2 separate regions of the Homo sapiens genome follow, and region 2 is linked to region 1. Evidence: fine-mapped expression QTL. A gene starts in region 1. The other region holds a variant in brackets. All regions are shown on one strand. Distances are from middle to middle.

Region 1 (2,907 bases):
ATCCCAGATACTCGGGAGGCTGAGGCAGGAGAATCGCTTGAACCCGGGAGGCAGAGGTTGCAGCGAGCTGAGATTGCACCACTACACTCCAGCCCGGGCAACAGAGCAAGACTCTGACTCAAAATAAATAAATAAATAAAATAGATGTTTCCGTCTTCCACAGGGAGGACCAAAAATAAATAAATAAATAAAATAGATGTGTCCGTCTTCCACAGGGAGGACGTGGGATGGTGGCGGAGCTGGCTGCAGCAGAGCTACAAATAAATATAAAATAAATAAAATTAAATAAAATTAAATAAATAAAAGAAAGTTATTTCAAAGGATTGTCTGAGAGGCAAAAACCTAACTGCAGTGAGTTCAAGAGAGAATGGGAGGAGAGGGGAGTTGCAGACTGTGAGTAGGCAACGCTTTTGCTGTAAAGGGGAGTAGGGAAACGGTGAGGGATATAGAGAGGGCTGGTTTTTGTTTGCCTTTGAGATGGGAGAAACAGCAGTACGGATGATGACAAGGATAAATGCAGTCATCAGAGGGAAAAGAGATGAAGGGGGGATTACTAGATCTATGTCCTTAAGCAAACAAGAGGCGATGGGATCTACCGCACACGTGGAGGGGCTGACCTTAATTAAAGTCCAAAGTATGTGGGCTGTGGAATCTCCCTTCCAATCGCAGTAGAACTCAATCCAGGCGGTCTCCGGATTTCTCCAGACCACCTCCACCTGGCGTTGTTCTGAGCTGGGCCACCGAAAGTTGAGATTACTGAATGTGTGTGTCTCCCATTAACCCGTAAGCCCTCCAAAGGCTGCATCTAAGTCGCCTCTGAATTATTCACATTCCTCCAAACTCTGGGCCACAGCCCCGCAATATGGGCTTATTGAATTAGCCCAAAGAGACACAAAGCAGCCTCTACGCAGCTGGTTTCACAAAGGGGGGCGGTCCTAACCCTGCGCTCTGGGATCCTGACGTTCGAGCTATCTCTCCTCCTCCCCTCTGCTCCCAGCTCTCCGCAGTCCAGCTTGTCGGCTGATCATCGTCCATAGAGGCCACCGTACCCGACGTTTGCGGACAGTGACAAAGAGTCAAGCTTGGTGGAGCCTGAGGACAGGACTGAATGACGATTGAACTGAGAGTTCAGGGGCGGAGTTTGAGGGCGAACTCGGGACAGAGACTGGATAGAGTTCAGGGAGGCGGGACCTAATGATGGCGCAGGGAGGGGATTGGGCTGAGGGCGGTGCCGGCGCGAGGATTGGGCCGAGCGCCTCGGGGGCGGTCCTTGAGGGGGCGGTGCCGTGTCGGAAGTCAAAGGTCAGTAAATAGTGGTGATGTCATGCAGGCAAGATGGCGGAAGGGTGAGCTTGTCGTTTTGCTCCTAGGCGTTGGGGCCTGAATTCTCCCAGGGTTGGGGTGCTGGGCGAGAGTCCCGGTGGGGAACGTGAGATCAGCGGGGGCGTGGACTGATCTGAAAGGGCAGAGTGGAGTCGCATTGTGAGGGGGTGGGCAAGCGGTCTGCGAAGCCTCGGCCCGCAGGGTACATCTGAGCGGGGAACAAACCGGATCCTTGGGCGGGCAGGAATCGCACCGCGGTGCTGCCAGATGTGTCTGTCTTCCACAGGGAGGACGTGGGATGGTGGCGGAGCTGGCTGCAGCAGAGCTACCAAGCAGTCAAAGAGAAGGTAAGCCGGGCCCGTGCCCTTCTTCCCTCAGCAGGGCCCTGCGCCGCCTCAATGCAACCTGGTCCAACCAGCCCCGCCCAACTTTTGCGGGCGCTAAGTCTCAAGGATGAGGCTGACCTGGGCCTTTCTTTTAGCCTCTACCGGTCCACGGGAAGACAGACCTCGACGCAAACCAGTGTGATACTAGCCACAGTGAAATAAAGATGGTTTTAAAGGCTGGAGTTAACGAACGTTTTGTAGGAATCCATAGGAAGGAGCAATTTATTCCAGCTCAGGAAATTCAGTTTCTTCGTGAAAGAGAGAGCATTTGATACAGGTCTTGAAGGAAAAGATTCTAGCAGTAAAAAAACTTACTCGTATAGTCATTCAAATATTAGAGTATATGCGACAACCAGCACTCTGATAGGTCTTGAGGATACAGACTTCAGCCAAACAGATGTAATCCTGGGCCTTACAAAGCTCACAGTCTAGTGGAGAGACAGCCATTAACCGAGTAGCCAAACAAATAGTTGTTTAGTTACCGTTGTGGTAAGTTCTGTGAAAGGAAAGTACAGGGGCACCTTGTCTGTTCTGGTTAGTCAGTAACTCACCAGGGAAGGCCCCTGTGGAGAAGGAACCTCATCAAGGGCAACCCTGCCTAGACAGGATGAAAAGCAAGAACCCAAGCCAGAGATGAGCATGAGCCATACACACTGGTGCCTGATGAGTTCTAAGTAGGGGCTATGCAACGGGCAGTAGAGAGAGAGAGATTAATCACCAGAGAGTGGAAGGCCTTCTTGCTGAACAATCTCTGTGGGATGAGTGATATTTGGCTGTGCCAGTGGGTAATTTGCCAATGTGTATTCCTGTTTCATTTCATGCTTATTTGTCAAAATCAGCCCAACTGAATTGTGGGAAAAGTTGATTACTATTTACCTCAAGCAATTGGGATGAGTCCTGCTTCAGGGCCAACTCCAGGAAGCTTCTGACCTCACCTAAATAAGTCCTCTACTCTGGGAGTATTTTTGTTTTGTTTTGAGACAGAGTCTCACTCTGTCACCTAGGCTGGAGTGCACAGGTGCGGTCTCAGCTCGCTGCAACCTCTGCCTCCCAGATTGAAGTGATTCTTGTGCCTCAGCCTCCCGAGTAGCTGGGATTACAGGCATGTGCCACTACTCCTGGCTAATTTTTGTATTTTTAGTAGAGACAGGGTTTCACCATGTTGGCCAGACTGGTCTCGAACTCCTCACCTCAGGTG
Region 2 (2,907 bases), 28 kb after region 1:
CTTGAGGCGAGGAGTTCAAGACCAGCCTGGCCAATATAGTGAGACCCCATTTCTGTTTTTGAAAAAAAAAAAAAAAGGAAAAAAGAAAACAGACATCAAACCCTGCCTGACCTTCTGAGTTGTGGTCCTCAGGTATGAGGCCTGAGTATATACTTGGCCTTGGAGACAAAAGACCAGTGTGATCAAGGGCAAGGGCAAGTTACTTAACCTGAGCCCCTGGTTCCTCATCTAAAACATGGAATTGATCATTATAAGACCTGGCTATAAGCTGTAATGAGGTGATCCATGTAGACACCTTAGGGCTATTGCCTGAGACATGGTGACCAGCACTCAGGAGACATTAGTGATAAACCCCACAAAACCCATTCCAGTTATTAAGCTCAAGGAGGCCTTAGTACTGTTATTCTTCACTACCTCTCAGAATCAAAAGTGGCTCATTTAGATTGAGAGGCTGGAACAGTCCAAAGCTCTCCCAGCTAATAAGTGACAGGACTGAGGCTGCAACCCAGACATCTGATTCATGTCAGCGTTAGTTCCACTGTCACATAAGAACCACATGAGTCCTTCCATCATGTAACTTATGAGCCTGTTAGAAAGAGGTGGACAGATTAGAGAGACATGTGAAGGGCCTCCTTTTTCATGATGGGAAACTGAAGCCTTGGGGGAGTATTTTACCTACTCAGGAGTATTTTGCACTTGTGACTACCTCACTATACCCAGGACAGAGAAAGCCCATAGTGCCCTGTCAGGCCACAGGGGCTTGCTGGCTTTTTGTGTCTTTGCAGCCCCCTTTAAAACCTGACGTGCAGTACACGTGAGCATTCTAGAACCTGCTATACCAGGGCTTAGCCGACAGCAGGCCAAGAGTAGGAACAAAGCAAGAAAACGTTCCGTGGGGAGACTTGAGCTGGGAATTAGGGTGTTGGTGCCCCTAGTGAAGACCTAGTGGGCATCTGTAGGCCACTGCCACCTCTGCTTTTGGCCACAGTGCCACTCAGGCAGTGGCCTCCATTCACCCAAAGACTAAGTAACTTGCCCTTGATTACACTGGTCTTTTGTGTCCAGGGCCAAGTATCTGCTCAGGCCTCCTGAGTTCTCTGCTTCTCAGAGCCATGGCATTATCTGCTCAGCAGGAGGCAAGTTCTCCTTAAAGGACTGAGGCTGACTTGGTTCCTGTAGGCAGCCATCACCTTGTGGTGTCTGGTGTTGGTTGGGGGAAGTGTTTCCTTTAGGTCTGAGGTAATCAGAGCATCAGGCCCACCCCTCAGGCAGAGGGCAGCTCTGCCCCTCAGACACATTCCTTAAGACTAGGGGTTCACTCTCAGTGGGACCTCAGAGTATGGCCTGGGGTAGGGGATGGGAGGTGGCTCTGCTCAGCAAGTGGAGGTTAGGTCTGGGCCTGACTCAGGAGTAACTA[T/C]GTGTTTGTGATTTCCATTACCCCCTCCCATTTGCAGCTGGAAGATGTAGAGTGGGAGGACTGGGAGTGAGGGAGCCAGAGGGAGCAGCTCCCCCACCCATGGCATCTCTCGCCTCCCTCGCTCGTCTCAGCCCAGCCCTGGAAGACTGAGAATGTTCCCCCAAATCTCCTCTGCCAACCAGAGCTCTGGGCACAGATTCTGGTGGCTCCCTGCTGGCCCTCTTGGGCCTCTGCTCACACCTGGGAAGGGGCTCTCTAAATCCCGGCCAGAAACTCTGACTTGTGCCAACAATAGGATGACCCAAGGGAGAGGAAACCTATCCTCCTCACCAGAAGAGCCTGTGTTTTTCTGCTGAACACCCACTGTTCCTGAGGACTCCTGCTGGGAAGTCCCAAGGGATAGTTCTAGCCCTTCTGCCTGTGTAGACAGAAGCTAAACCACCAGTCTCTCTCGGAGGAAGCTGAGACAACATACTCTGTCCATACATAAGCAGGCAGGGAGGGCCATGCCACCTACCCTTGGCTAAACAGGGACAGTGAACACATTTTGGTTCCTATCCCAGTGGGTAAGAGGCACTTATCTCTGGGAAATTTGCCTCTCTTGGGACTCTCCCCCTCCCAGGCATTTTCCATTCCTGGAAAGGCTCCTTTGGGGTTCAGAATCCAGAGACCAAACCCTGACCCACCTCCTTCCTTTCCTCCAGCCCACGCTGGTCTGTCCCCATGCCTTCCCAGGGCTTCTTCATGTCGGATGCACCCAAGTCCTTAGCCCAGCTGTGCCACCTGCAGGAGTTCGCTCTTGCGTTTCTTCCCCTCCCCAAGAAGGGAGGGGGCTACTTCAGGCCCTTCTGTGTGTTGCCTGGCAGGATACCTTGTCCAACCAGCTACCCACCTCAACTCCCCTGTAGTTTAGGACACAAAACAGCTACCAGCGGTACAGAGCGGTGATCAAAGCCGAGTACTTACAACTCTGGTAAGCCTAGCTTCTCCGCCTCAGCCCTTCTGCTTCTGGAAGGGCTATCCTGGGGGTGAACTTGAAACTCTCATCAGGCTTCTGCAAAAGCTCTTCTTCCTGAAGACAGACCCAGCCTTTGTGCTCTCACCCTCCACTCTGGTAAAGCTGCACCTCTGGGGGAATGAGGGGCTGCAGGAATCTCTGGAGAGCCTGGTGCTTCACGATGCTGCTCTGGTGATTCTTGTACCTAATCTGGTGTGCTCACCAATGAGTGAAAGGGATCGTGGGTCAGGGACACCGAGAGAGTGAGGTCACTTCCACTTCAAACCTTCAGTGAGGGGGTGGGATGGAGAGAATGCTGAATCTTTTTTTTGACGGGATGGGGTTTTTCTCTTTGTAATTATTTCTTTAGTTTAATTAACCTTTTGGTTGTTTGTGCAATATTATATATTTTAAATTATAATGCATCTCCCCAGAGTATTTTGTAGCTGGGAAAAGAAAAAAGGAAAAAAAGAAAAAAAGATTCTAACAGCTG

Direction of the effects. Positions count from the first base shown, and alleles are read on the strand shown. Sizes are in standard deviations (SD) of each study's normalised expression.
For the expression in tibial nerve of the gene that starts at base 1,309 in region 1, T is the low allele of the variant in region 2 and C is the other (moderate effect, 0.51 SD a copy in GTEx).

What was found.
Region 2: its variant is fine-mapped to the expression of BSDC1 in tibial nerve (GTEx, PIP above 0.99). The same link has a PIP of 0.9 or more in thyroid and whole blood.

What each region holds. Positions count from the first base shown.
Region 1 is chr1:32,392,843-32,395,749 of GRCh38, reverse strand. BSDC1 (BSD domain containing 1) reads left to right here and starts at 1,309. Exons shown (of 11, transcript NM_018045.8): 1 at 1,309-1,346; 2 at 1,610-1,670. The coding sequence starts at 1,336. RefSeq lists enhancers at 1-176, 924-1,003, 875-1,570, 1,294-1,583, 1,571-2,268.
Region 2 is chr1:32,365,202-32,368,108 of GRCh38, reverse strand. BSDC1 (BSD domain containing 1) reads left to right here. Exons shown (of 11, transcript NM_018045.8): 11 at 1,455-2,907. The coding sequence ends at 1,487. Among named protein-coding and RNA genes, the nearest start is that of TSSK3, 4.1 kb to the right of the region's middle. The variant T/C (reference allele first, on the strand shown) is at 1,418.